Regions from separate parts of the Homo sapiens genome. Here region 2 is linked to region 1. Evidence: fine-mapped expression QTL. Tissue or cell type: whole blood. Region 1 holds a variant in brackets; the other region holds the start of a gene. All regions are shown on one strand. Distances are between the middles of the regions. Region 1 overlaps PTGER2 (prostaglandin E receptor 2). Region 2 holds the start of PTGER2 (prostaglandin E receptor 2).

Region 1 (15,961 bases):
GTAGTGAAAGTGAGCATCCTTGTCTTGTTCCACTTCTCAGGGGGAATGCTTTTAACTCTTCTCCATTCAGCGTGACGTTGGCTGTGAGTCTGTCACAGATGGCTTTCATTTTTTTGAGGTATGCTCCTTCTATGCCTAGTTTCTTGAGGGTTTTTGTCATAAAGGGATGCTGCATACTATTGAATGCTTTTTCTACATCTATTGAGATAATCGTACAATGTTAGTTTTTAATTCTGTTCTGGAAAAGGTAAAGGGAAAGTCTCACCTTAAGCCTCTGGGAAGAATACAGTTTGGGCCAACACCTTGATGTCAGCCCTGCAGCTCTCATTGTGAACTCCTGCCCTTCGAAACACTGAGGTGATAAATGTTAAGTCACTAAGTTTGTGGAAATTTGTTGCAGGAGCAATAGGAAACGATTGCTTGGATGTTGTAGATAAATTTGGTTGGAACTGATATCTGTACATTATTGGGTCTTCCATTCATGAAAGTAATATAACTGTACATTTGGTCAGTCTTCTATGCCTTTCAATAAAGTAGTGTAATTTTCTCCATAAAGATCTTTCACATCTTTTGATATATTTATTCCAAGCTACTTTGTAATTTTTGCTGTTCATGGTATAAATTTTTAAAAATTATATTTTCTCATTTGTCATTGTGTGTAGGAACACTATAGGTTTTTCCAAGTTGATCTTTCCAGCAAACCTACTGAACTTAAAAAAAAAATTATTCCGATCATTTGCTTAAAGTGCCCAGTGGATTTTCCATGCAGACAATCATTATTTACAAACAATGTGTCTTCCTTTCTAACTCTCATATGTGTTTCTGTTTCTTGTCTCACTTCATTGGTTAGGTTTCCAGGCCAATAGAATAAGGCATTTTCTAAGGTATTTCCTTCTTGTTCTGGTCAACTGGCTTTGTAGGTATGTATGTGTAGGTATTTTTTTTTTCTATTGTGAATAAAGAAACAATGTGTACTGTTCCAGGGATAGCCTGTCCAAATTGTGAAACCTAGCCACTTCTTTTACTCTGTCAGTTCTATAAAGATCTTTCTAGAATGATCCCTCACCTTTTTACCATTTGTTTTCCTTGGCCTAAAAGACAGCCCTCTTGGGAAAGTGGGTAGACTCACCCTTACATGCCCTGTTTATGGTATGAAGCTAAAAATATCTTGGAAGGAAGCCAGAAGCCAGATAAATCTCAATGATAGGGTAATCTTTTTCTAGGATCTCTTTTATCAGCCTTGGATATCTAGGATAGTTATTTAGGATATCTTTTATTGGGCTCCCACCACCCCCTTGATGATGTGAGTGACCTTCAGAAGACCTGGTGCACTCACTTGGCACAGCACATGAACCTGGTGCAGGATTCAAAAAAGCTGAAGAAAGCAATCTAGCTCCTGTTGGAGATGCAGTGGGCCAGGCTGCTGTCCCATGGAGATCTGGGAGGAGATGGGTTGCTGGGGGCCCAGCCATTGCCCTCCCATGCCAACAAGATGAGTCAGCAAATCTAACAATGTGCATGAGCCACAGTGTTACCTGACCTAACGTTGCCCTTCAGAGCTTAAACATGGCTGAGGCTTTACTACTGCCTTCTAATTCTGGCAAACATTTTTCTTGTGGCCAACCTGAACCCAAAACCATGAAAAGAAGGGAGCTCTGGAAAACAGTTGTAGCTTAACTACATTGACACAATAAAAAGCCACCATGATTGTTGTCTTGCTAGATAGTCAGAAAGTATCTTATTATATATATCATATTGTCTTGTCTGTGTATACAGAATACCTGAACTGGGCCAAGTTTAAAAATTTTAATAAAGGTCTGTTAATTAAGGCTACATTTGAAGAGCATTTCTTTTGTTCCAATATTGGACATTGTCCATTACATTTTCTAGAATGCCTCACCGTTAGCAGTTGAGTTTTTTTTCTCTTCTTATTGGGATTAGATAACAAATGTCTGTCATATCATCAACACAAAAGACAGGCAATGTGGTATTAAGGAAAGAGTAGTTTATTTTCATTTAGTTCATATATATAACTAGAAATACATAATTGTACATGATTATTGTGTTGCATAGGTGACTTACCATTGTAACTTTCCTGAAATCCTTTCCGGAAGTACATAGGATACAAAAAATACAACTGGGCCAGGCGCAGTGGCTCACGCCTGTAATCCCAGCACTTTGGGAGGCTGAGGCGGGCAGAGCACTTGAGGCCAGGAGTTCAAGACCAGCCTGGCCAACATGGAGAAACCCCATCTCTACTAAAAATACAAAAATTAGCTGGGTGTGGTGGTGCACGCCTGTAATCCCAGCTACTCCAGAGGCTGAGGCACAAGAATCACTTGAACCCGGGAGGCGGAGGTTGCAGTGAGCCGAGGTCATGCCACTGCACTCCAGCCTGGGCAACAGGGTGAGGCTCCATCTCAGAAAAAAAGAAAAAAAATTGTATTTACGCATGTGTACTTGATTTTCAAAGGACTTTCCAAAGATAAGTCTGAAGAAGAAGCCTTTCAATCAACACTTTCATTTCTGGAGAAGAATCCTCTCAGTGAACACTGTTATTTACTGATGTTTGGAAACGCAATATACAGTCATAATGACCGCTTCACAATCAAAGCACAAGTTCTCTTATGTGTGTATTTGCTGATTTTTCTTTTGTTTAATTTTCAGCCAAAGCTAGATGCCCACGTTGGTCATTATTCTTAGTTCAAAATTCTTCACTCGAAATAAATATCTGAATGTAAAATAAGACTTTGGGATCAACATTTAAAGTGGAAGCCTACTAAAAAGTTTTTTAATGTAACATATGTGGCTGAGTTTATTATTTATGTCACTATTTGATATTTTATCTTGAATTCTTAGGAAACTCAAACTATAGCTTCTAGTTTTAGCCCCTGGGGTATTGTTTTTTGGCATAAGAAATGCAAATGCTTATCAGAGATCCATTTTATTTTGTTTTGCCTTGAGAAAATTTCATGTAAAATGATGTATTTAGATATAACACCATTATTTCTGAGATATCACTTATACTCTGAAAATCTTCATGAAATAATATACAGTTTTGTGACTGACCAAACTGGGCTTCCTTGTTTAGAGTTCTTGCTGAGTTAAAAGTTGATAGAATGAGTTGACAGAGATATGCCTGACTAAATCAGTGTTAAGTTTCGTTTTGCTTTGTTTTTTTGCCATTTCTTAAAAGCTGGGTGCTGTTTGTAAGATTATCTGCAGAGGGAAAAATAATTAGTCTAAGGCTTATTTTTCCACCTGTATTTAATTTCTTTTACAGGCTTGGATCATGGTATACTTCCACAGGTATTCGGAGAGATGAATATTATATTATCATAATTAGAATCTTAGGATCTACAGTGGATATGGAATAGGGTGAATTTTTTCAGAATATTATGAAGAAAACATTTCAGAGATATGTCTTCAGAGAATACACAGCATCAGAGAAAAAGCAGGGCCATTATATTAGTTTTACTTGCTCTGAACAGTTTTAGCAAAGGGTTGCAAACGTATTATTGATTACAATGTTGAATTCGTTTGATTTTCATTATGGTCATGGTAGGAAGTGCAAGTCAGGAATACCTTCCTCAGAGACTTAAGAGTGGTTAAGTGCGTAGCAGCACAGGGAAATGGAGGTGCTGCAGTCTGAGGGGCAGCAGGAACCCAGGCATGGAGAGGGGAAACTGGAAGTATCTCAGCACTGAGGGGAGGAAGCAGGTGTTGCCTGAAATGAGATGGGGAAGTGAGTGGACCCAGCCCATCCTTGTTTGACCACCAAGGGGCTTGGATCTTAACTCTGGGGATGATGGAAATCCAGTGATGTGGGGAAACTGATGACTTTGGAATGAATTGGTTCCTAGACAACAGTCACAGATTGGACTGCGAAGTCCTGTAGTTGCAGTGTTACAGAGTGGGGTTCTGTTCCTAAAAACCTATTTCATGAGAAAAAACTCAGTCATGAAAATAAACAGGAAAGAAATAACACAGAAATATATGCTTTTATAAGTGTGTGTTAAGAGCTTTGTAGTGAAGGCTGCTTTGGGGATTTTTTTTTTTTTTTTTTTTTTTTTGCGTGAACTCTATTGAAGTCGTCTTCTTTTCTTTGTAAATTTCCCTGTAGCAAACATGGGAATATTTCATTTTTCCAAGGACCTTTGGCCTCAACTAAAAGTTAGGGTTATTTGCCCCTAAAGTGCTGGCTGACAGTTTGATTGATTGGTTGATTGATTCATGTATTTGTTTACTCAAACATATTTATCGAACACCCACTATATGAGGTATTGTTCTAATAGTAAAAAAAAAAAAAAAGACAAAGGCCTCGCCATGATAGGAGACTTTTTTCTATGTGTAAAGAAAGACAATACATACACACACACACAAATACACACACACACACACACACACACACAAAATGATGACACAGATACTATATTGCCGGCTAGTGAGAAGGGTGATAGAAAGAAAAATAAACAGACTGAGGGGAAGGGGAAGGAGAGTAATGAAAATATTTTATCGAGTGATTTATATTTTTTATATTTATATAGACCAGGGAAGACTTATCTGTGGAGGTGACATTGAGCAGAGACCTGAACAAAATGAGAGAGCCAGCAGTGAGACTACCTGGGGGAAATACATACATGAATGCCTCCAAATGTCTTTGGATGGATGGAGACAGGTAGGGCAGTCACTCCAGTCACTACTTCTTTGGGGATTTCTTGCTGTGAACACAACATAGGTTCAATCAGCTGCAACACCTCTGGCTTCAGTGGGCTCCTCAGGCTCTCCAGTCAACTTCAGACTTGTTGGTAACATCTGTCACAGTCATCAGGCAAACACAAATATGGTGATGATGTTGGGAGGGGTGGTGGGTGGGTGAGGGTGTTGGTATTGTTGTTGCTATTTGTAGTGCTGTTGTTGGTGGTGGTAGTTTTGTTGGTGGTGTTGGTGTTGGTATTGGTGTTGGTGTTAGTGTTGTTGGTATTGGTAGTTTTTTGTTGTTAGCATTGGTAGTGTGTTGGTGGTACTGTTAATATTAGTAGTGTTGGTGAGTGTTGTTAGTATTGGTAGTGTTGTTAGTATTGGTGGTGTTGCTGTTGTGGTTAGTATTGGTAGTGTTATATTGGTAGCACTGATGGTGCTCTTGTTTGTACTGGTAGTGTTGGTGATGGTGTTAGTGTTAGTATTGTTGTTGTTAGTATTGGTTAGGTTGCTATTGTTAGTACTGGTAGTGTTGTTATATTGGTAGTAAGTCTAGTGTTGTCGTTGGTGCTGTTGTTAGTACTGGTAGTGTTGTTATATTGGTTGTGTTGTTGGTGCTGTTGTTAATATTGGTAGTGTTGTTGGTGTTAGTGGTACTGTTGTTAGTATTGGTAGCGTTCTTATATTGGTTGTGTTGTTGTTGGTGCTGTTGTTAGTATTTGTAGTGTTGTTGGTGTTAGTGGTACTGTTGTTAGTATTGGTAGTGCTGTTATATTGGTTGTGTTGTTGGTGGTGCTGTTGTTAGTATTGGTAGTGTTGTTGGTGGGTGGTGGTATGTGTGTGTGTAGGTCCCACATGATGAGAAAGGTTTGGGTAGCAGAGGATTGGAAATCAGTACACTATAAGTATGGGATCCTAAAAACATGATCAGATTCTCATTTTAAAATATCAATAATGATAATAATAACCGGCATTTTTAAAGATCATACCATGTACCAGACATTGTTTTAAGTATTTCATATGCCTCATGTGATTTTTTTGGTATGATTTTATCATTTGACTTTTTGCCGAAATCCTATGAGGTGGGCAGCTACTACCCTCATGATGAAGGTGAAAAAACAGGCTTAGAAAGTCTAAGTAACTTATTCAAGGTTACACAACAGTGGCAGAGTTAGGATTTGAAATGAGGTCTGTCCAACTTCAAAGTTCAAATTTTATACCAAGCACTGTGCTATTCTGTTTCCAAGGACAATACCCCTACACCAGGGTGGAGGATGGGCTGGGGAGGAGATTAGTACTAAGTAGATGAGGCAGTACTTGTGACTAATTTCCTGACAATCTGCTCCCTCCCCTGGGTATCCTGGTGCACAGTCTGCAGAGTAAACACAATCCTTCCATGCTTTTGAGCATAGATTTATGATTGACAGGAGAAGTGAGCAAACAGATTTCCTTATTGCTCTTATGGAAATGCATGGAAAGTTAAATGGAAATTTCATTATGCGAAAGGACTTATGGAAATTCATCTTTAAGAATAATAAATCTCCATTTGTGAGATTCAAAACCTTGTTGCATCTGTGCAGGTTGAAGTGAGTAACAAGAAGGTTGAAGTGCAGCTATTCTGTAGTTAAGAATGAACTCATTATTCTGAGGAAGCTGCAAAAGCCCACAAATTCAAATAATCACAATGTGGGCTAGACCTCTAGTGGGTAGACTACTGTTTTCTTTTGCACAGAATCATTTTTTCATATAATAGCTAAAATTATCATTAACTTAATGCTGAAATAACTGCATTATTTTTCCAAAATAAGTCATGTAAATTTAAATAACAGTTCACAGTTGTCAATGTATTTGGTTTATTTCTCTCTAATGGGAACAGAGTGATAAATATATAAATTCCTTTCATGTCATATAAATGCTTAGCCTGACTTGTTGGTAAACAAGTTGGTAAGACAACCACTCTTATAAAGAGCAGCTTTGGCTGGGCACAGTGGCTCATGATTGTAATCCCAGCACTTTGGGAGGCTGAGGTGGGCAGATCAAGAGGTCAAGAGATTGAGACCATCCTGGCCAACACTGTGAAACCCCGTCTCTACTAAAAATACAAAAATTAGCTGGGCGTGGTGGTGCGCACCTGTAGTCCCAGCTACTCGGGAAGCTGAGGCAAGAGAATCACTTGAACCCAGGAGGCGGAGGTTGCAGTGAGCCGAGATTGCACCACTGCACTCCAGCCTGGGCAACAGAGTGAGACTTTGTCTCTAGATAGATAGATAGATAGATAGATAGATAGATAGATAGATAGATAGATAGCAGTTTTGTGGACCACCTAATTCTCCAACCAGTAAGATAGCTATCACTGGCATTTAGTTTTGATATTCGTTTCATATATGCATCTTCATTCACAACTCAAAAACAAAATATATGAGGAAAAATTAGAGTGATAGAAATTAGATTGATTTTAGTTTACATTGTTAATGTATCTTTATGTGCAAACAGTATGGACCTTTTTTGGTTTGCTTTCTTTTGAAGGGAGTATGCCTACTGTTTTATTTTTTAATTGTTTTGAGTATCAAAACAATCATAAACTCACAGAAACATTAGGAGCACAGTACACATAACTTTTTCCCCCTGAATTATTTGAGATTAGGTTGTGGACATGGTGCATCATCATTCCTCAGTACCTCATTGTGTGTTTCCAAGGACATTTTCCTATAGAACCACAATTTAATAACCACAATCGGGTAGTTTACACTGATGCATTACTAACATCTATTCCTCAAGACCTATTAAGTGTTGCCAGTTGTCGCAATAATGCTCTTTATAGCAACAGAATCTAGTTCTGATTCCCCTGTTGTAGTTGATTGTCCTGTCCCATTAGTTTTCTTCAGTCTGGAATAGTTCAGACTGTCTTGACTTTCATGACTTTGACTCTTCTGAAGATTACAAACCAGTCATTTTGTAGAAATCCTTCAATTTGGGTTTGTCTGGTATTTCTCCATGATTAGGGTTAGGCTACTTCTTTCAGGTACTTCTTCGATAAGAAGAAATATCCCAGAAGTGACACTGTATTCTTAGTGCAGTTTGTCTTCTGGCTTAGAATTTAATTGGTTCTGTCACTGATGATAGTTTACTTTGGTCTCCCGATTACATTAGGGTCTGTCAGGATTTCTTACTGTAAAGTGATTCTTTCCCTTTGGTTATTTTATGGTCAGGTACTTTGAAACTTTGTAAGTCGCTTGTTTCTCATTAAACTTTCATTTTTAAATTTGTTTTTATCTGTGTGGAATCACTGTTTCCTATTTTTTTCAAGGGATCATAATCTATTATTATCATTATATATGTTGATGCTCAAATTGTCCCCAGTTTGGTCAGTGGGAATCCCCTTTCAAACCGGCTTCTGTGTTCTTGTGAGGTGGCTCTCTCATTCCTCAAGCACTTCCTTATAATTAAGATGTTCCAGGCTTGCTTTATACTTTCCCTGCCCCAGTTTTGAAGTCAGCCATTTCTCAGAGGAGCCCTGGTTCCTTTCAGGGGAAAATGGTATTTAGAAAACAAGACCTATGAGCTAGGTGTGCTCATTGCTATTGGATGGGGAAGAGGTTGCTAATCCCAGCTATTCTCAGTGGAGAGAGCTAGAGGATACACACACACACACACACACACACACACATTTACATATGAATTTATTTCCATATTTATCTCTATATATTGAAAAATATGAGCTAACACAATATCCCAATTCCAATCCAACACCACAGCATCCATTCCAGTTTTTTCCCCTTCATTTTTCTGTAACAGTGACTAAACTGTTTTTTGTTATTTTTAATATATTTGTTTATTTGATAAATCCTTCTGTATGTAGCCAATCTCCCATCTCCAACATCTTCCTCTCCCTACACCTCCCTCTTCCTGCTCAAGCTGTCAGTCCCCAATCTGAGTCCCCAGCTCACCCCACGTGGAGGCCATGCTCACCCTGCTTGGGTCCTGACAGCTCATGCTAGGCCATCCCACAAGTGCATGCCCATCTCACCCTGCTCAGGTTCCTAAACCCCATCACTGGGCCATCCCCTTGCAAGGATGCCCCATCCTCTCAGTCAGGCTCTGCCTCCCTAGAGCAGTTCACCCCATGTGGACAGCCTCCCCAGGCCCCTGGGCTCTGATTGTCCATGCAAGGCTGCTCCTGTGAATGGACACCCTCCTCTGCTTCAATCTGTTCAGGCCCCACAACCCAATACCAGGGCACCCACTCCCTCCCTGTTTGGGTTCCAGTGCCCCACACCATGTCACACCCCCTGTGTGAATAACCTTCTTATCTGCTTTGGACTCTGATGCCCACTGTAGGCTGCCTTTCTGTGTGAACACTCTCCCCAGTCCACTAGGGCTCCATACTCTGCACAGCAGCACCCCCATCCTCGCCCAACCTGAGCTTGAACAATCCGCTCCAGGCCCCTGCGTGGGCTCTCACACCCCCAGCTGCAGAAGCCTGCCTTAGTCTGCCCCACCCAAAGGGCTTCACATTGAGTTGTTCAGAGAGGAGGGGAAGAAAACAGGAGGAAGATGAAGTCTTTCAGAGACTGACAGAGATTGTATCCTTGACACTAGCCATTCGTTCATTCAACAAATATTTATGAACACCTACTACATATCAGACATGATCCTAGATACTGCAAATATGGTGGTGATAGGCCAGGGCCATGCCAATGGGGTTTTCCTTCCGGGGGAATAGAGTCGGAAATAGAGGGCCATTATAGATCTCCATTATGTAGGGTCAGTAGAATGATCCCTGGCTTGAAATCAGAAAACAGTTTAATTGTTCTTTTTTGTTGTTTTGTTTGTTTGTTTGTTTGAGATGGAGTCTCACTCTGTTGCCCAGGCTGGAGTACAGTGGCACGATCTCAGCTCACTGCAACCTCCACCTCCCGGGTTCAAGTGATTCTACTGCCTCAGCCTCATGAGTAGCTGGGATCACAGGCGTGTGCCACCAGGCCCAGCTAATTTTTTGTATTTTTAGTTGAGACAGGGTTTCACCATGTTAGCCAGGATGGTCTTAATCTCCTGATCTCGCAATCTGCCCACCTCAGCCTCCCAAAGTGCTGGGATTACAGGCATGAGCCACTGTGCCTGGCCAGAAAATAGTTTAATTTTTTAACTTTCCCTTAAAAGCTGTGTGATCTTGAGCTATTTGCTTAATTTTGAATACGTTTTGTCATCTGTAGAATGGGGACAGTGCCTACCTTACAGTGTTGTTTTGAAGACTAAATGAGATTTACCACATTCAAAACATGGTATGGGATCATTTTCAAAATATCTTTCGAAGAATATACTTGTTAGAGTAGGTAGCTAGGCAGACATGAGCTGGACAGGAGAGTCCCCGACCCCAGGAATGTCAGGCAGCCATTAGGTGGTAGTCAGCTGGTTGTTAAACTGTCTCTTTAAAATAATAATTGGTTGCAGCTGGTGCCAGGGAAAGGCTGTGTC[T/G]CAATAGATAGAAAACACCTGAAAGTGATGATCAGCACCTTCCCAATAAGATCTTGGGAGCTGGGTGAGCAGGCTTAAGCATGTGCACTAAGAGGCAAAATGGCAGAGTTTAACTGGTATATGACCCTCTTTTTGGAACACATGACTGATAAGGGAAAAGTGCCTCAGATGAGCATGCGCACAACTTCAGTAACCACCTTGCATGTGGCCCACCTTGCATGTGGCAGGCCACACTGTGCAAGCAGACAGCCTGCCCCAAGGGAAAAATCAAGGGAGGAGAAACAGAAACCCTGGAACTATGTCAATGTATAAAACCCCAAGTCAAGGGCCGAACAGCATGCTTGGATCTCTCAAGTCACCCATTTGGCCCTCTTCCAAGTGTGCTTGACTTCCTTTTGTTCCTGCTTTATAACTTTTTAATAAACTTTCACTCCTGCTCTAAAACTGCCTCAGTCTCTCCCTCTGCCTTATGCCCCTCAGCCGAATTCTTTCCTCCTGAGGCAAAAATCGAGTTGCTGCGACCCATATGCCCTCACTACTGTTAACACACTGAGTAAATAAAAAATAGAAAAAGGCCTTGAAATGTATAAGATATAGTTCTACGTGTATAGGACACTTGGCAAGTGTGAGATACCATAACATTAGATATCAAAACAGGCAGCAATCTCTGTCCTTGGGACTCACATTCTACTCGGGGGCGACAGACCATGAGTATTATATATAAGTCAATCTTGAGGTATGTTTAAGGTCACTCATAGATAGAGGAGGGCAAAGGGAATGGGGAGGGCAGGGGCGTGTAGTTTTAGGAAGAGGGTTCAGTAATGGCCTTACTGAGGAGGCATCTCTGGGGCAAAATGTTGAAGAAGGTGAGGAAGTGAGCCAGGGCTGCCTGGAGGAAGAGCATTTGTTGCAGGCAGAGATAACAGCCAGGGCAATGACCCTGAGATGGGAGCTTGCTGGGTGTACTCCTGGCCCAGCACGGTGGCCGGTGTGGTTGGAGTCGATGAGCAGGGGGAGAGACAGGAGGCCTGGGTAATGGAAAGTTCACCTAGATGGAAGATCTCCCTGATTAGACGTCTGCATTCCAATCCCAGTGTCACGATTCTCACTTAACCTTTCAGTGGTTAGTTTAAAAATAAAGTTATCAGGCTTTTTTCCCCATGTGATTTGTCTCTTAATCCAAAATTCCTGCTATGAAGGATTCCAGTTAGTAGCATTTTAATGTGCTCAAATAGAGAAATAAAGGAAAGTCCTTATTATTTGAAAAAGCCTTTAACACTGATAACAGGATGATTTTGTTTCCCCACTTAATATTTCTTTGCAGCCATTGTAGTTCACTATAACTTCATTGAAAACACAGAAGAGGCCGGGCGCGGTGGCTCACGCCTGTAATCTCAGCACTTTGGGAGGCCGAGGCAGGTGGATCACGAGGTCAGGAGATTGAGACCATCCTGGCTAACACGGTGAAACCCCGTCTCTACTAAAAAGCAAAAAATTAGCCGAGTGTGGCGGCGGGTGCCTGTAGTCCCAGCTACTCGGGAGGCTGAGGCAGGAGAATGGCGTGAACCCGGGAGGCAGAGCTTGCAGTGAGCTGAGATCGGGCCACTGCACTCCAGCCTGGGCGACAGAGCGAGACTGTGGCTCAAAAAACAAAACAAAACAAACAAACACAAAAAACACACACAGAAGAAATTTGTAGAAGACAGGAATCTGACTCTTCACCTTCCTTAGTTTTCCAGACTGGCATGTCATGGAAAGATGTGAACATCTGAAAGTGTTTCCTCTTGGAGTGGGTGTCCAGCTCCCTCATCACCATAATAGGTAGTCAAGAGAATAAAGTCTCTAGTTTACAATTAGGCTTGCTCTTCTTTTATCGGAACGCCTACTCACACCAGAAAAATTTATTTTTACAGGTCAGAGAGTAGTACACCACAACATGCAGCCCACAGTGTTTTGGTTATCATACCTTTCATCCTGCGGGGAACATGAGGACATTTATTTTTAAAAACATAAAAAGTTAACATTGGGTTTTCAAAACTCTAGGGCTTTTTGGCTTGTTCTCTGAACACTTCACAATGTGGACACACTGAGAAGCTCTGTAAGAGCTGAAAAAGTCTCCACTATGTCTTCAAAGGTTTGCTTGTGCTGCTGTTGAATTGTTAAACATTTTATTTATCATGATCTATCAGGCACACTCTTAGGACTGAGATGAGTATTGCCAATTAACTCTAGTAAAAATGTTGTTTGATAACTAAAAGCAGTGAGTTCCACTTCAAGAGAACTGTTCTCTGGGGTAGGGCACTGGCATCTAGTTGCACATAATCTCAGGGGCAAAATTATTAACCCAAAAGACCAGGTTCAACTGACAAGCCCAAAGCTCCCTATCCCTAGTGTACACAGCCAATCCAAAAGCAAGAGATAAGAGACAAGAGAGAAATGATGGCTGTGTGGTTTCAGGGCGGCAAGATCAGCACCATAATCATAAGGGTATCTTATGAGGATGTCCCTAGTGACCAACTCACTTCACCCCTGCACACCCAGTTTTCCTCTATGTAAACTGGAATGCTGTTGCTTCTTCCATCTGTTGGAGGTTTTAAAGACAGGACCTGGTTTCTAGATAGCTTTGTAATCCCAGGTTGCATTAATAGAAACATAATATCCAGATTAAGCCAGGAACTGATCTATCAGCATTCAGTATTGGTAAGACTGGTTTAGAATTACTGGTGTTTGGTTCTGGCCCACTGTTTTTAGATGGGCACTGATAACTTGGATAAGATCTGGAGGAGGGCACCAAAATGGTGAGGTGTCATATGCCCTGTTGTCTTTCTGTCTCTCTTGTTCCTTTTTTTTTTTTTTTTCTGAGACGGAGTCTCGCTCTGTCACCCAGGCTGGAGTGCAGTGGCGTGATCTCGGCTCACCGCAAGCTCCGCCTCCCAGGTTCACGCCATTCTCCTTCCTCAGCCTCCCGAGTAGCTGGGACTACAGGCGCCCACCACCACACCCGGCTAATTTTTTGTATTTTTAGTAGAGACGGGGTTTCACTGTGTTAGCCAGGATGGTCTCGATCTCCTGGCCTCGTGATCCACCCGCCTCGGCCTCCCAAAGTGCTGGGATTACAGGCGTGAGCCACCGCGCCCGGCCTCCTCTCTCTTTTATACTTACTCATTCCTCTACATTCTCCCATGTGTACCAATCTTCATTGCATTCTATGAAACGCAAATTTGTCCCATTTGTGTATTATCATTTTTCTTGACAGTTACTCAGAGTTAATTAATATATAGCATCACCCCTAGCACCCACCACCGCCATTGAGAATCAGAAATAAGAGCCAGATGTGTGTAAAGAGGTCAGAGGGGCCACTAAATGGGTATCTAAGATGATACTAATCCCTAACCTTATTAGGATTTATCATGTGCCGTGAAATACATGGATCACAGAATTAAACCACTAAAATTGACCTTAAATAATACATACATTTCATAAGAAATAAAAATATATCATTCAAGAGAATATACTTAATTTCTTTTTGTATAGTAACACAAAAGCTGCCAGGAAAAAAAAAGTAATTTTCTGAAATAAGTAATGCCTAATACATGGCCTTGGCCCATGTATAAATTAAAATGTAGCTTTTGTGAATTGCTAAAATAATACTTCTTTCCATAGTGTGTATTTTAGGTCATCAAAACGACTTGTAAATTTAAAAATCAATTATAGTGCTGTTAGGTGATTGAGAGGAAAGCCAGTGGAGTGAGTGTTTGATGAAGGCAGAAGAGAGGCATCAAATATTCAGGTTGTAACAGAGCAAGTAAGAGCAGGCATTGCAAGTCGACATGAATGAAATACTCATTTATAGAGAGGAATGCATCTCTCTCTATAACTGTCTCAAGTAGTGGCTCTTCCCAAGTTCCAAAAACCATTAGATTTGGCTTAAGCTAAGTGAAATAAACAAAACTCTGCCTAAGTGAGAGCTAATTGTCTCCCCTTGCCTTTCAAAGTCATCAAATTCTAAAGTGGAATGTGTTGTTATTTCTTGGTTCAGATCAGAGCTGACCTGCCATTAGCATTAGGACAATCCCTCTCTCAAAGTGCACTGATGCTGAGGAGACAGAGATGCCAAAGTGTAACTGAGTTACATGAGCGTGTAGTGATGTGAATCAGTTTTGCCCTCCCTCCTCAGGGTTCGAGACCTCTGCAAGCATCATGATTTGGAGTTGGAGTGGTTTCTAGAGTTTCGGTCTTGCTCTGGGTTGTCATGGGTCCAACCCACTTTGTGATGCAGGTCTTCTAGAGTCATCTTATACCTTCTAAACAAACTCAGATCCCGATCAGATTTTTGGAGATTCAAGGCCACAATTTAGCACCAGAATTTTTCAGTTCTTTCTTGGAAAAGATGACCAGGGCCACACTGAACCATTTAGGAACAATTCAGCTCAGAGCAGAGAGCTTGGTCCATCTCATATCGAAACACCTAAACTTAGGGCTGGCATGCTGCAGGGAATCCCGACTATGGTTTCTTTCTCCCTTTTCATTCTGACTACTAGGGGCAAAGAATAAAGTCTAGATCTTCTTTTATCACAATTCAGTCTTTAATATATCAGGCTAAGTAAATTCTGTTCTTTTATTTAACTTGATGATGAAACAGTAACTTAAACAGGTATGTCTGATGTGACAGGATTTTTAGAAAGGGAATATTTACATATCTAATTTTAGTAATTTTTTTCTAAGCTACCTTTAAATTGCCATTAATAGGAGGTAATGACTATTACAGAGTATTTTTACTTTCAACTCCTTCTACATATATATTGGTATAAATGAAATACCAGGATTTAGTCGTTCAGCACAGTACATGGAACAGGAGTACATGAGGAAACAGAGTTCTAGAAATATACCAGTGCTTAAATAAGTGGCTTAAATTCTTATACTTTGGGCTCCAGAGCAAATCATTTTGTTCCTGCTAGTGATATTATGTCCAATTTTGTGTTTTTGTTTTCAGTTCTCAGGCATTATTCTGGGATTTTAGGGGGGCAGTAAGGTGGGGTGAAAAATTGTAGTTGACATTTTCATCTGGAGAAAAACAAGTCATCTGATAAAAGTAATTAATCTTCTAGTTCAAAGCAACTTCAGAATTTTATGTTTAGGAATTACCCATGGGCCTAATTAGTCCCATTTAGAATAATTTCTTAACTTTAGAATGCCTGGTGGACAGGGAAGATTTATTTACATGTCTAGATTTTAGTTAAGTTAAATTTTGCCTGGCTTGTTTAAATTTGTAGAAAAGCAAACCACTTATTTATTCTTCTTAAGAGCTGATTTGACGTAGATTGTTTGTATCAAAATACACTGATGCCTAGATTGGTTTGAAATCATTCTAAGTGATCAGCTAGTTTGATAACTGCTTAAAGGAAATAGCTTTGGATAAACAACTCAATGAGACTTTGGAGAAAACAAGCATCTCTTTTTTTTTTTTAAGGAGTGGCTATCCAATAATATCACTATGAAAAAAATAAGATGATTCTACTATTTTAAAGATCATACTGGAAGGGTAAAAACTGGAGGAAAAAAATATCTTCTAATACCAAGTATTATAATGAATATTTTAAACTCTAATTTGCAACCTCACTTTAAAACCTGGCAACCACACTTTACGAATCTGCCAAATTAAATATAATTTTTCCACTTTGAACTCATTTAAAAGATACTATGTTTATATTAATCACAAAATGTTATTTGAGGGAGTTCATAAAATACTACTCCATTTTCAAATTTTTGTTTTATAGTTTATTTT
Region 2 (15,961 bases), 26 kb after region 1:
TGAGTCCCAGTTCCACCACCCATTAGCTGTGGGACACAGGGTGAGTCATTTGCCTCGTCTGTACGATAGAAATCATCATACTATTTCCTACGGTGCTGTGAAGATAATGGGTTAATGCAAAAGTTAGCATTCAAAAGTCTGATTTTGTGGTCGATAATAATGACATATGAGGTTGAATTGGACTTCACTTGAAGGGACTGGGCCTTTAAAAAAAACTACAGTTTTACTTCCAAAATTTTGGAAGCCCTAGACTGGCATCTTTGGAGGAAGCAGTAATTCCAACCTGCCCAAACCTTGGGACAATGCCTGACATTAGTAGTTCTAGGTTTCTGAATTCCCCCATTTCCCTCCTCTGTCCACTACTGGAGTGCTGTGGAATAGACTGGTGTCCCACTGGGTACAGCTGTCCTCCTTGTTGCCAGTGGTTTGGTCCACTTTTGAGGGACAAAGAAAGCAGCTTGTTATCCTGAGGAAGGAGTGGGAAGAGATAGAGTAGATTGCTACTATTTTCTGGGATACAAGGAAGAAACTTACTTGGAATAGCTTATTAATAATTATTTTACATAACTAATATTTTGAATTGATAATATTTTAGATATATTGGGTTAAATAAAATATGTAATTCAATTAATTTTCTCTGTTTCTTTTTACTTTTTGTTATATGACTACTAGAACATTTAAAATTCCGTTTGTGGCTTGCATTTGTGGTTCACACTGTATTTCTATCAGATCATGTGCACTCCGTTAGAGAAACAGAAACATTTCTGAAGGCAACCATAAACCTTTGCTTCTAGAGCCCCCTGTTAGGACATGTGGAAATGATTCCTGCTTCAGGTGGGAGATTGGTATAGGCCACTTCTGACCACAATTTTAGTGTGGGCCAAGTAGAATAAAAGGACTTGGAGGAAAAAGCAACCTCCCCTGGAGGCACATGCCAAGGATTCTGAACAGCAGAATGTATGAACCAAACAGTAGCCATGAGCTTGAATTTTCAGATAAGCCCTTCAAGAAATAACTTAAATCAAGATAGTACAGCATTTCATAAAGCTTAAAGTGCTATGTAAGTGAAAGATACTAGCAATTATTCCCAATAATCTATTGACAAAATAAAATCCATCAGTGGTCAATATAAATTTTCTTACTAAGAGGTGACAATGCTTCCAATTTCCATTTTGTGTATAGTTCATCTGAATATGGTGTCATGGTAGCTCCAACAATGGAAGTCAGGGAGGCTGGCTTTCTGATTATGTTCACACTAGGATTTTCTCCGGCTCTTTGGGAATCTTTGCCAGAAGCAAAAGCAGTTTGCTGATAGTGTCAATGCTTAGAGGTGGTTTGGGGGAGCTAAAGCCCCTTCATAGTCTCCATCTGGCTCCCCCTAAGCCATAAACAGGAAATTGAAATAAAAACACAGCTTCAAAGCAAAGCTCCTACTCCCTCAACACCTTTTAGCCAGATTTCTGTGGCTAAGCCCCTTCTATCTGGCAACTCTGGAGCAGCCCTTGGCCTAATATTAACTGAGGGAGGGAAAACAATATCTATATCTATATCCACACACATATATTTGAATTTACAAAAACATAAGGCAACGATGGAATTCTCATGGTAAAAGGCCAATTTACATGAAAACAGGGCAACCTGTTGGAAACCACTACCTTTATTTAAAAAAAATACAGTTTATGCAATGGGTCAGTCATGATCAAAGAGGAGAACTTTTTCCTCTTGCTCGTGTAGGAAAGAGACTAAAAATCGTTTCACAAGTGTGTTATCACCCCAAACCCATTCCCAGGCTATTTAAGTAGCTGATAGTGGGGGATATTTTTATAAATATACTCACAAATGACAGATAAAACCCTAAGAACTGATTATCTTAATTCCCAACACCCTAAGACAGTCTTTCAGGAATAGTTTCTGATCCCCAAGCTGAATGCAAAGCTGTTTGGTGGAACTTGAAATGCTTTCTTTCATAGATATATGTTCTGCATCCTAGTGCTGACCTTCAAAAGCTGATTTAGCTCCTAACATAATCAAAAGCTCCTACCAGTAAAATAAATCAAAAGCATATAAGCCATGTGGGTTTCTACATCACAGCGTTTCTGTTGCATAAACTCCCCTGCTCAGAGTGGTATGGGAGATGCAGCCTCCCACAGTCCGACTTCATTTTATAAGAGGGCGTCTTTGAATATTCTATCTCATTCCCTCAAAGTGTAACCAATTCAGAACAGTTTCTGCCCTGACAGAGGATGGGGTAGAAGGGTGAGGACAGTGGGGACCAGGGAGAAGAGAACGTAGCTAAGGGAGTTAACTGGGCTGGGGAGGAGAGAATCATATTCAGACCTTTGGGACCCTGTGTCCCTTCCCATCCCTGAGGATGAGCACATGAAGATGTAAGAAGCAGTAATGGAGGCAGGAGATAGGATAAAGTTACTTCTCCTCCAGCTTTTACAGGTCAGACCTGTTAATAGTAGGCACTGCCCATCTCTTTTCTCCAAGATTGTGGCAGGTGGAAGTCACTATTAACTGCTTTGATGCTGCAGCATCAGTCTTGCTCTTCTGAAGATTAGGAAGTGGAGTTGCCACAACTCCCAATTCCTAGCCCCCGTAAGAGGCCAGCACATTCTCGGACATATTCCAGGCTCAGCTAAAACGTTACACTTGAGGAGACTTGAACTCACAGCCTCATATCATTTAGCAGTTAGTTAGCATCAAATAACTGCTAAAGTTGCCCCAAATCAAGGCAGCACGATGCCAGGACTTGGTCTCTTGTCCTTCAGTTCCCCAGGTAGCCCCACTCTTCCCTTCCTGAGAGGGACCAGCCATTCCTGCCTGTGGCTTTGTGCTCATCAAGTGCATAACTGTAAGCTGAAGGACACCTGTGTGTATTTCTGACAGTGACATTAAGAGCGTGTTTTGCAAGATATTACAAATGCTTAGCAAGATGTTCCTCCAAGTATTTCCTCTAGTTATCATTATGGTTTTATAAACTTTCATGGCCACAAAGAGTTACATTCAAATATATAAATTGGGAAACCTATAAACTAGATGTTTGTTGGACTTTTAGGACAAATAACAAATGCTCTAAACTTCTGCTTCAGGGACCCTTCTCATCTGGGACCATTTTCAATGGCAGCTGGAATGCTATGGGTTGGGTACTACATTTTGCCCTGGCAGGAACAGAAGGCAAGCATGGAGAACCAGCACCAGTGGATGAGAGGTACAGGGCAGCAAACTGCAGCTCCAGGTCGTCAGGCTGGAACAGTGACAGCCATCCTAAGGTGGAAGGGGCTGCCTCTTTCTCAATTACTAAGCCAAGATAGGCAACAGCGAGAAAGGGACACTGCCCAGGGCTAGGATGAGGAGATTGGCTAGCTTAGCTGAGGCCCAGGACTCCCTTTCGGACGGTCTGTATTATTGTATAAGAAACTCTAGCCTAGCAACGCCCATAAGCCAGGATAAGGAAGTGGGCTAAAGAGGAGGGGAAACTAGTGGGGAAGGCTACAGATCTTTACAAATTAGGACATATTTTTACAAGTTGCAAAAAGTTTGTAGGGCGGTGGAAAGGGTGGAGGCGTCAGGGGAGAGCATGAGAAGGCTGAGCAGAGCCGGGCTGTGGAAACGTAGGGAGTGACTTACCGTGAAAGGCAAGGAGCAGACGGCGAAGGTGATGGTCATGATAGCCAGGAGAATGAGGTGGTCCGTCTCCTCCGCCATGGACACCCTTTCCCCTCTCCTGCGGGCCCCGGGGCCGCCCCGGCCACTGCCCAGGGAAGGTCCGCAGCGGCTTCTCCGGCTTCGGCGGTGCATGCGGATGAGGTTGAGAATGACACTGAAGTTGCAGGCGAGCACCGAGACAATGAGAAGCAGCAGCAGGGTGGCGTACAGCTGCAGGTAAGCGGTCCGCCCGTGCCGGATGAAGCACCAGGTCCCGGGGCAGTACTGGACGTACTGCCCATAGTCCAGCAGCGGCAGCGAGCAGAAGAGCAGGGAGACTGCATAGATGACAGGCAGCACGGCCAGGCCCCCGGAGCGCGAGACGCGGCGCTGGTAGAAGTAGGGGTGCCCGATCGAGAGGTAGCGCTCCAGGGCCATGGCGAAGAGCATGAGCATCGTGGCCAGGCTGAAGAAGGTCATGGCGAAAGCGAAGTAGGTGCACGCGCGGCTCTCGGGCGCCAGTGCCACCAGGGTCTGGTTCCGCGCGTACGAAGCCAGTACCACTGGGCTGATGAGGCAGGTCCCGAGCAGGTCGGTGAACACCAGCTCGGTCACCAGCACGTGGAACAAGGAGAGGGAGCTCCTGCGGCCGGCGCTGCACCCCACGTCCCCCCGCCAGCGGCGCGCCAGCAGCGCCAGTGCTATGAGGTTCCCCAGCACCCCGGCCGAGAACATGACGGAGCTGATGGCTGGGCTTTCGCCTGGGGGAAGCCACTGTCGCGTCTCGCAGTCCTCAGACTGGGAGTCATTGGAGGCATTGCCCATGGTGGGGTGCCTGGAAAAGAGATGCGCCCTCCTCTCCCGGCCTTTACCTGGGAGGAAGAGGGTCTGAGAGCCGGAGCGTTCCGAGACTCAGAGGAAAAAGGGGAGGGACCGAAATCCAGAGCCCCCTTCCCGCACCCAGCGCGCCGACGGCGGCTTGCCCTGGGTCTCCCGCCGCGCGCCGAGTGGCGGCTCGGCTGCTGCATCCGAGCGGCGCTCGAGGCTCCCGCGCCTACCCGCGCCGGCCAAGGCCGGGAGCCAGAGCCTAGGGGAGCCGTCGTCTCCGCCCCCGCACTGTCGGGGGGCGGGCCCAAGAGTGCTGGCCAGGCCTTGCAAGTGCGAGTGTCCGCGAGCTGCAGGGGAGGCAGGACGCGTCACACTCGCGGGGGCGTTCCGAGTCCCTGGGGCGCGCCGGCGGGGAGGGAGAGAAGGAGTCTGAGCACCCGCTGGGCGCGGCACTGGGCAGAGGCGCGCGTGTTGCCGGTGTACTGAAGCTGCCCGCGACCGGCGGGAGCGGCGTTTCTCGCTTCCTCGGGGTCCGGTACTCGAAGCGCACGGCAGTCTGACCTCGGCTGGGAAGCGTTAAGCCCCAGCAGAGGGCTGGGAGGGAGTGCAGGAGCACTTGCGGGGTCTGCGCAGAATACACAGAAGATCGGGGCAACGAGCAAAGCAAAGCAACTCACCAAACAATGAAGTTAGGAGAACCCAATCCCGTGAAATGAGCGGAACAAGGGAATAACAGTGCAAAGGCAGCTTGAAGTAAGACCAGAATGTTTTGCTTTGTTTTTACTATTCCCAGGAAGATACACTAAGAGGTTGGGACAAAAATTGGGATGAAGCGTAAAGCAAGTGTGTCCATCCAAGGAACCAAACCACACAATGCGCACCACCGAGCGGCCTGTTGCACTGCCGCTTTGATTCGGTTACTAGCATTTCACCGTTTCCTATGTCAACAGCATAACGGATAACCACTTGTTTAAGCAACCATTAAAAAAAGAGGAGTGTGTCTTATACAGAATTGTGTTTGTGGATACAACATGAAAACCATTGCACATCACTGTTCTGTCCTTAAGCTGAGCCTTGTAAGAAAATGTTGATATTTTGTTTAGCCGTTTATCTTTACATGTTGTTAACCACGTAGTATCCATCCAGAAAGACTTGTTCCTGGCAAAGTGTATTGGTAAGTGGCCAGTTTCAGACTGGAGCTGACAGTAATGGTTTCCTACCACATATTGTCATAATTGCAGAGTCGTGAAAATGGGCTGATATTTAACACAAAACAAAACAAAACAAAATCCAGTTTGGCAGACAACATAGGTAATTGTGTTCTGTAAGAAGTCACATTCACTTGGGGAAGGGAGGCCAACTGGGAAGTGAAGGGTCTGATCTGCCTAGGGAACTGGCAAGAAAGACAGTCATAACGTGGGAGGAAGCAAAGATTGCCTGCTGAAGAGCCTATCTTGCTACAGCCTGCTTACTCTCCATGAATATTTTTTGCCAACTTTGATGATTCTGGCCTGGGGATTGGAATGCGGAGTTGGGGGGGGTGGTTCCCACTAGAACAAGCATAATTTACTGGATCGCTTGCAAAGTTTACAGGCCGGTTTTCACATGTCAGCAGGCACTACTTCAATCCCTAAACTTCTCATGGCATGGATTCCTAGGAAAGAGGATCTTAACTCCTACAGTTTTTCTTTCAAGCTGTAAACTCTGCAGGTCAGTAACAACTTATTACCAATCTTTGCCATCCATCTCTGACTATTCCCCTACTCCAACATTCCCCCATCTCACCCCAAGCAATGGGGAAACATCAAACTTAAATCAGAAGTATTTCTTAATAGGAAAACACTATGATTTATAGCATAATTCTGCACTGCAGTTTTACTATTAAATAAGGGATTTTAGATTCACTGAATTTGCACAGTGCTTATTTTCCGAATATTTTTATACCTTTTTAATTTTCATAAGGCCCCTCACAACAAAAACCTACTATTTAACCTTTCCTATATATTTGTCTCTAGCTTTTCTTTGGATGGGTACCTGGTGGCAGGCCGGCCCCTGGTTTTTGTGAATACGAGAGCAAGAGTGCAGTTGAAGATCCTCCCCCAGGCCCCTGCCCCCTTGTCTTCCTAACCCCTGACTCAGTCTTGCACCACAAGGAGTCTTGCACAGAAATATGTGGAGAGTATAGTTCAATATGTGGACAGTATAGTTCAATATGTGGACACTATAGTTGTTGATAACCAAGCTCTCTCCCCAAAGCCACCTTGGTCCTGGGAATATGCATCTCAAACATGCAAATGACCCTTGATTGGATGGACCTAGGGAAGATGCCTGATCAAGCCCTGGAAGCGAGTTATGGGACCAACATTTGAGCAGGAAATTTCATGATCTCAGGTACCTGGAAGGTGGTCTAGAATGGAGGGGTAATGGGGTCTGGGTGAATAGTGCCCTGAGGGTGTCTCACCTGTGGTAAGGTATGTGACAAGAGGAAGACTAGAGTGGGCCCTATAAATCTTGGGAGGCCAGTATCCTATTAATTACTGTGCTGCTCAGCATTGCTTGTTCAAATTACTCCTTTTAATTGCTTCCAGCATTTGGACAGAATACATACATATGTGTGTGTGTGTGTGTGTGTGTGTGTGTGTGTGTGTTTGGTTTAGCAGTTTGCTGTGTTCCCTGTTGCTAGATTGCTGAGTAGGAGAGTTGATAAGTTTGCTGTCGCTACGTAGCAACTGGACCATCACGTTTGTTCCTTTAAGTGCAAGTCTAATCTTGCTTGTCAGTTACCCCCAGTTAATTTTGTGGTTTAAAAGCTACTTCTTCCCATTTCTAATTTTAGTGTCAGCATTTTGATACAGTTTCAGTTTACATAGAGCCTAGAGTTCCTTAACAGAAAACAGATTAACACCCTCAATTCTAGAATTGAGCCATAGAGCTTTGCTAATTGTTTAGTTCCTGTTTGTGGGGCCATTGTATGTGGGGAACACTATGTGATGGTTAATTTTATGTGTCGACTTGACTAGGCCATGGGATGCCCAGGTAGCTGGTTAAACATGATGGCGGGGTATGTCTGTGAAAGTGTTTCTGGAGGAGATTAGTGTTTGAGTTGATGGACTGAGTAAAGCACATGCCCTTCTCAGTGTTGGTGGGCTTCATGCAATCCATTAGGGCTTGAATAGACTAAAAAAGTAGGGGAAGGTGAAATTCACTCTCTGCCTCACTGCATGAGTGGGGACATTGATCTCCTGCCGCTGACACTTATGGTTTTCAGGCCTTCAGACCAGGACTGGAATCTACACCACTGGCTCTTCAGCTCCCAGACTTTCAAACTTTGTCACCAGCTTTACTGGGTCTCCAGCTTGTACATGACAGATTGTGGGACTTCTCAGCCTCCACAATTGCATGAGTTGATACTTTATAATAAATATCTTTATGTATATCCATCCTACTGGCTGTTTCTCTGGCAAACCCTGACTAATATACACTTCTTAAAGTCTAAAGTTCATAGTGTTCATTTATGTATCCATGAATTCAAAGGACTGTGGAAGGTGGGTTACTTCCTTTAGGTCATTCTTCAAGAGAAAGCAAAGATAAACATGAAGGAAAGGAGAATTGCTTGGGCAAAAAGCTAACATTAATTCTTGTTCATAGTTTTATTGATGTTACTTTCCTCGTTCAAAAGACGAGTTTAAATTTATATTTTATGATTCCTATGCATGCATAAATACATTTTTTTTTCAAATTGAGTCCTAAGAACACCATCTGTGTCCTGTGGTATTTGAGACAAGGTCTACACTTCACGGCAGGAAGCAGAAGCCACCAAGAAAAGAGACAGGGTTTATTGGAAGTACACAGTGATAGTTCACTGCCCACTGGGGGTCTATTTTTTTTCTTACTAAGAAGTTCAAAGGTTGTAGGCTGGTTGAACTTCCAGGAGCCAGGCTGCTTCTTCCTCTAGCCCTGTGATTCCTAGTAATGCTGGCTTTGTGTCTCCATGCTCTCCCCATGTAGCTAGCAGCTGCTGCCTGTATCAGTCAGGATTCAACCAGAGAAACAGAGCCACTACGAGTGATTAAGAAAACATGGAATTTATTATTAGGCACTAGGCCTCCCTTGACCAATATTGTAGCCATTAGCCACATCTGGCTATTTAAATTTAAATTAATTAACATTAAATAAGAGTAACAACTTAGCTCCTCTACAGCACTGGGCACATTTCAAATGCTCAATAGCCACGTGTGACTTGTGGGTATCATATTGGGCAGCTCAGGTGCCCAATAAAACACTTCCATCATCACAGAAAGTTCTACTGGACAGTGCTGCCCTAGACCTTGCAGGATGTGAGACCTGGTGGAGGAGTCCTGGCATGGCTGTTTGTTGTCTTCGGTTCTAGTGTTGAGTCTGAAGTCACTATAGGTCAGTCAGGATTTCAGTCAGGGCAGAAAGTTGGATGTGGATGATAGCAAGAACAGACTGGAATCTGTGAGAACAAACTGAAATTCATGAATGACTGAAGTCCTTTAGGACAGACCGGATCTGCCTGTGTCTCTCACTGTCTCCAGCCTCAATAATACAGGTGTCCTGCAAAACATGCTGGCACCCTTTACCGAGCTACAGATGCACTTGGCTTAGGACTTGAAGAAGCCATAGGAGGAGATCTGGTGGGAGCAGGAGGAACTGTGAGTCTTGCTGCCCCATGCCAGCAAGGTGAGGCAGCAGGTCAGCGACAATGCGTGAGAACTGCCAATGTTCCTCACGCCTTGTGTTGTCCTTCACAGCATAAAAACCATGGCTGCTGCTTGGTTGCTGCCTCCCAGATCTCATGCAATATTTCCCTTGTGGCCAATGCTAACCTGGAACTATGGGAGGATTCTGCGTAACAGATGCTGCTTAGCTGGACCAACACAATACGAAGCCAACTACTGTCCCACGGGTCTAGGCATCAAGTCTACATGGAAGCCAGGGGCAAAGGAGAGACAGTGCTGGTGAGCTTGCTCTCTCTTGTGCCTGTTTCTTCCATCAGGAAAGCAAAAGGCTTTCTAGAAGCATCCAGATAGACTTCCCTCTGTCTTTTTAGCCAGAATTTGGTCATATTGTCATCCCTTAACTCCAAAAAAGGCCTACAGAGGGGATGTTGGGTTTTTCCAGCCTCTTCTAGAATAGAAGCAGGGAAGGGAGAGGGGCTGGGAATGGCTATTGAGTTAGTCACCCAAAGATGCCTACTGCAGATCTGCATGGTGCATTCCCCATCACTCCCCTACTGATAGCTAGAGAAGAAGCTCAAGAACGCCTATTCCAAATCCTTCATTTGCATGTGAAGAAATGGAGGCATTGAAAGGTTAAGTGGCTTACTCAAGGACACACAGAGTTAGTGCAATATATCTGGGAGTATGGTAGCAAACCATCTTATTTATTCTCCAGGCCACTATATATTGCACATACTGTCCATTAAAAGCCAGAAAGAAGTACATGGCAAGATGCTCATCCTCAGCACTAGAACCAAATCACTCAGAAAAATTTGAGTCTTACTTTTTGTCTGATGGTAAAGATTGGTAAAGTTTGGAAAGATTACGCACACCCAGTATAATCAGACATAGAGAAATGGGTCCGTTGTTGGTGACAGTATGAGTGCAATATTTATATGCATAAGGATTTGCATAGAACAGCATCTATAAGGATGTTCAACAAAATATTAATAGTAATTAAGTAGTACTTTCTTCTTTATACCTGTCTGTTTTGGTTGATTTTTCTGTAAGTATGTATTACCTTTATATTAGAATGCAAGGAAGCTGATTTTTGATTAGAAAAAACATTATCATCATTGGAGGACATAGTCTTCCTACTTAGTAGAAGGCGGGGACTTAGATGTTAATGATTTAAATTCTCTTCCAGTTCTACTCTTTAATGAGTGGGCAGGTCATGCCAGCTGTTTGAAGCCAATCAAGAGGATTGGAGATACTATTCTTATGCTTTTCACAAGGGTTTTACAACTGTCATGCTTACTTGAAGATTGGAAACCATTACATATGATGTGTCGTTTCTATCAAAATAATACCTTCCTTCACCTCAAGCAACTACTTCGACATTAGATTATTGTCATCCCCGAATGTCATTGCTTAATCCAGTTCTGACACTAGCATTGCCAGGAAGTTCCTTTTTCCTAAAGGTGGTAACTAGTCCACCAAAATGTCAAAAAAAAAAAAAAAAGTAGTCAATAGAAACCGACTTCCAGATAGCCCAGATTTTGAATTTAATAAATATGTTCAAAGAATTAGAGAAATTGTCAATGGACAAGTAGGGAATCTCAGTAGAGAAATGGAAACTCTAAAAAGAACCCAACGGAAATTCCAGAATTAAAATTTACAGCAGGTTGGAATTGGCAGAAGAGTGAACTTGATGACTAGTCATTTCTTTCCATGTCCTCATTACTTCTGCATTCATGGGAGATATTCTCACTCTTTCCATACCGTGTAAGGCTTAGGGAACTATTGTTTTCTCCTGCTCACCCTGTTTATACCCAAGTGAGGCATAGGTTTTCTGTGATGTCAGATCCCTGAAACTTCTCTGAGATTTGGGAGTACAGGACCACTTTTTTAACAAATCTCTGTGTTAACATCTAAGCTCTTCTTCTTCTCTTGAGCTTTACCCTCTCTCCTTCACAGGCTGAGGAACTAGATGGGGGAGAAGTGGTGAAACTTTGCTATTCTTCATTTTCTGTCATCTGGGCCTCCTCTAAGCCTAGGCTTTTGAAAGTCAAGAATTGATACCTGTGTTCTTCAAGGTCTGTTATATTGTTCTTTCTCTGAGGGAGTAAGCAGAGAACACCCTAGCTGCTGCTAAAACTGAGGAAAGCTCTGGAGTATCAGGAAGTACTGGGCAAAAAGTACAGAGGTTGATATGTCAAATTATTATCCGGCTACATTTGCTTTCATGTAGGTGTGTATGTGTATCCAAGGTTCAGTGGAACTCACTACAACCTCACAGGATTGTTTGTGAAACAATTTGATAAAGTCTTTGCAAAACCCTGAGTCAATAAAAAGCACTTTGCAAATGGATGCAAGAGCACAACAGTTCTCTTGTCCTCAGTCAGGAAATATCAGACAGGTAAATCTACAATACTCCTTATTAGCGCCAGGAGTTAGATCAAACAAGTTACCACGCTCGTTTTAGGAAGGCAGATTACCTGTGACCCTAATTTCCTTTCTAAGATTGATAGAGGATAAAGAGTGCCATTTAATCATGAAAATTCTTTTTCTTAGGTTTGCTTTCAAGAACAGAACCAACTGTGAGGTAGAACAACACATATAACACCAAAAGCAAAGCTATGGTTATTTAATTTGTTCTTATAAAGTAACAACTCACTATAGAAAATTTAAAAAAAATAGAAGGAAAAAAGTCACCTATGAATTGTCCTTCAGAAATGGTAACTCTTAACATTTTGATGAGTTTCCTTCCATTTTTCTTCTGTGCATTGTTTTTCATAGTTATGATAACATTGCATATAAAATTTTATTTACTGCTTTTCAAAAACTTAACATTATAATAACTTACCTTACATATATGTTTTAAAAGCCTTAAAATATGTATGTCCTGAGACCCAGAAATTGCATTTCTAGAAATCTATCATATTGATTTCTGTATTTACTGGGGATATATTTACTGAGGCAGCATGGTATAGTTTTAAGAGCATGGGCTTTGGAGTCAGATTGCTGTGAAATCAAACTTTAGCTCTGTTCTTAAGCAAGTTACCTCACTTCTATGTGCCTCAATTTCCTCATCTGTAATATGGGGATAATAGCAGTACCTGTAATATTTCATAAGTTCCAGTTGAACCCAGGGCCTGGCCCATAGAAAGCATTCAGCGGGTGTCAGCTGTTTTAATGTTGAGCACTTATAATGTGCCAGGCCCTGAGGGACCATGCTGACATGGTCTGTGCCCTAATGAAGTTTATAATAATAGTGATGACAAAACCAGTTTATTAAGGGCTCGTTATATTCCTAAAACCGCTAAGGGCTTCATACGCATTATTTCATTCATCTTATTTCTTTTTTTAGAGATAGAGGCTCATTTTGTCACCCAGGCGGGAGTGAAGTGGCACAATCATAGCTCACTGTAGCCTTGAACTTCTGGGCTCCAGCCATCCTCCCGCCTCAACCACCTGAGTAGCTGGGACTACAGATGTGCACTATCATGCCTTGCTAATTTTTCAGTTTTGTAGAGACAGGGTCTCACTATGTTGCCCAGGCTAGTCTCAAACTCCTGGCCTCAAGCAGTCCTCCTGCTTCAGCCTCCCACAGTGTCATTAATCTTTATAACAATTCTATAGGAGGGGTCAGATATATCTCCATTTTACAGATCAGAAAACTGAGGCTGAAACAGTAAGTATTCAAAGTTGTAAGTATAAAGAAGTTCCTTTCAGTATTATCTATAGTACATTAATATTGGGAACTAGCCCAGCTGTCAGTCAAAAGGGAGTCGTACAAATATGTGTATCTGTTCAATGGAATATTATGCAACTACTTAAAAATATACCTCTTCATGTATTGACATGGGTAGTTATCTACAATGTCGAGTGGATGAAGTGAGTCATGAAACACTATGTATAATGTGGTTAATTTTTATAAAAATAAACACTTATACCAAGATATAGGGCTAGTGGATTTTTTTTTTTTTTTTTTTTTGAGACGGAGTCTTGCTCTGTTGCCTAGGCTGGAGTGCAGTGGCGTGATCTCTGCTCACTGCAAGCTCCGCCTTCCGGGTTCACGCCATTCTCCTGCCTCAGCCTCCCGAGTAGCTGGGACTACAGGGGCATGCCACCACGCCCGGCTGATTTTTTTTATTTTTTAGTAGAGATGGGGTTTCACCGCGTTAGCCAGAATGGTCTCGATCCCCTGACCTCATGAGCCACCCGCCTCGGCCTCCCAAAGTGCTGGGATTACAGGCATGAGCCACTGGGCCCGGCCGCTAGTGGACTTTTTATTGAAAAAAAGGTTCCAGTATATACTCCTCACTGTTATCTCTTTTCATAAACATTAAATTTACTTATTCAAATTCTACTTATTAAAGGAACAAAGCTCAATGTTAAAACAATTATCATTTTAATAAATAATAAATATTTAATACCTAGTATATTAGCTACCTATTTCTGTATAACAGGCCACTTCAAAATGAATTGGTTTGAAACCAAGTTATTTTATTGTTTTATGTTTAGTGGGTCAATTATGTTGGTCTGGACTCAGCTAGGAGGTTCTCGTGCTGGTCTTGTATGGACTCATTCTTGCGGCTGTAGTCTCCTGGTGGCTTGAATGCGGATTGGTTTGTCTGGGAGTCCTCAGCTGGCAGCTCTTGTCTCATTTCCCACCAGGTTAGCTTGGGCTGGCTCCTATGGTGGCATAATGTTCCAAAAGGGTGAAAGTGGATGTTGTAAGGCCCACATGCGGAAGTTTCACACCATCACTTCCACCACATTCTGCTAATCAACGTAAGTCCCAAGGCCCGACTGGATAAAAGGAGGGGGAAACAGACAGTACCTCTTGATGGGAGCAGTGTGCATACAGCGATGAAGGAATGATTTTAGTCATTTTTGCAAATAATCTGCCATTCCTAGTATAAAATCAATGCTTACCATAATTATTATATTTACACAATAGCTTTATTTTCTTTCACATGAAAACAAAAAGTATTAACCCACAGAGAATTTCACTTCTGGACCATTTATCATACTTTGAATTTCTGACTCACTCTCTACTGTGAGAAAGTAGCTATCACTTGACATAATTGGAAAAAGGGCAAAAAAGGAGTCAGCTTATACCCTGGACGTTTGCCACTTCCATTTCTGTTACTTGCCCCCAGGATCCAATACATAGTATCGCAATGGGAAATACCAAATCCCCACTCTCCCTTCTCGAGTTTCAGCTGTTCCTTCTGTGTTTTCTCCAGTGTCCTCACATCAAATCCAGGAGAATTAGGAGAGAGGAGAGCACTGACTTCAGAAAGATAGCAGATGAAAATGTGATTCATTTTTATTATGTGAGGATGTAGAGATGTATTCTGTAATTTGACTTGATATCAAATATTGTCACAGAGGGTGTGTTTCGTTATAGGGATAATTATGTGCTGAAAGGGAAACTCTTCAAGGCTATTGCTGAGTTCTATGTTTTCTCCTTCCCATAGCCCTTATTGCCTTCTAACATACCATGTAATCTAGTTATTTATTGTTTTTTGTTTGTTAACTGTTTCCCCCTGCTGGGATATAAGTCTCCAGAGGGCAGGAATCTTTGTCATTTTAAATGATTGTTGTACCACAAGGATTAAAACAGTGCCTGGCATAGAGTAAGTGCTCAATACAGATGTGTTGAATGAATGAAGGACGGAGTGGGAGACTTGGCCAGTGCTGCTGGAAGGTCTAATAAGATGAGTGCAGATAACTGGCCTTGACTTTTGTAGAATGTACGTACACTGGGACCCTGCTGAGAGCTCTTTTTGTGGAATGGTGGGAATAAAAACCTGAATAGAGAGGAGCTAAGGAAGAGAATGGGGGAGAAATAAAAGGTGAGAAAGTAAAGCTAGGGATGAAGACAACAATATGAATGAGTTTGAAGGGCTTTGAGGGTGTTGAAAAATTTAGTGGTAGCTGGAGGGGCCATGAGGTCAAGAGAAGTTTGCTTTTTAAAATGGATAATAGCATATAGATGGAAATCATCCTAAAGGGAGGGAGAAAAAGATGATACAGAAGAGAAAAAGTGTACTTGCCAGTGCAGACACCTTGAGAACATGAGAGGGATTTTGGGCACAAGTAGAGGAGTGCCATGGAGAGCAGCAGGTGCCTTTCTTCCACTGAAGCAGGATGGAAGCCAGTGTATGTGGGCACAGGTGCGGTAGTGTGCTGGAGCTGGTAGCGCAGGATGAGGAGGTTGTGGAAGAAAAAAAGAGGGAATGTTGGTGATTTCAAGTAGAAAAGATCTGTATTACTTCCTGAAATAGAAAAGTGCATTCACTGGGAAAATGTGGTCATTAATATCCTAATGAGGATAAAACGTAGTGGAACTTGGCATTTATAAAGGCAGGATGCCACACTTCCTTGTGAAGCTGGTTTCACATCCATTGTTCTAGATCTCAGTGGATGGCATCATTGCCCATGCAGTTGCCCAAGCTAGAAACCTGGAGTCATCCTTGACTCTTTCCTCTTCCTTGGCCTCTACATCTAAATAATCACCAAATCCCGTCGGTGATTATTTCTTATGTGTTTGTTTATTTATTCAGGGCCTCTCTGTCACTCAGGCTGGAGTACAGTGGCACGTTAGCTTACTGCAGCCTCGACTTCCTGGGCTTGAGCAATCCTCCTGCCTTGGCCTCTGATAGTGCTGGGATTGTGGGCATGAGCCATGGCATCTTGCCCTTGTGACTACTTCTAAACACACTGAGAGCTGTTCACTTCTCTGTATACCCACTGCTACTTTCTTAGGGCTGGTTACTTAAATCACT

Evidence for each region. PIP is the estimated chance that this variant, and not a neighbour inherited with it, causes the effect.
Region 2: PTGER2 starts here. The variant in region 1 is fine-mapped to the expression of PTGER2 in whole blood (TOPMed, PIP above 0.99).

The regions. Positions count from the first base shown.
Region 1 is chr14:52,328,577-52,344,537 of GRCh38, reverse strand. It overlaps PTGER2 (prostaglandin E receptor 2), which reads right to left. Exons shown (of 2, transcript NM_000956.4): 2 at 15,940-15,961. Among named protein-coding and RNA genes, the nearest start is that of PTGER2, 22 kb to the right of the region's middle. The variant T/G (reference allele first, on the strand shown) is at 10,177.
Region 2 is chr14:52,303,064-52,319,024 of GRCh38, reverse strand. PTGER2 (prostaglandin E receptor 2) reads right to left here and starts at 4,713. Exons shown (of 2, transcript NM_000956.4): 1 at 3,634-4,713. The coding sequence starts at 4,476. RefSeq lists enhancers at 3,819-3,958, 3,979-4,128, 4,363-4,922, 4,923-5,483 and a silencer at 4,649-4,758.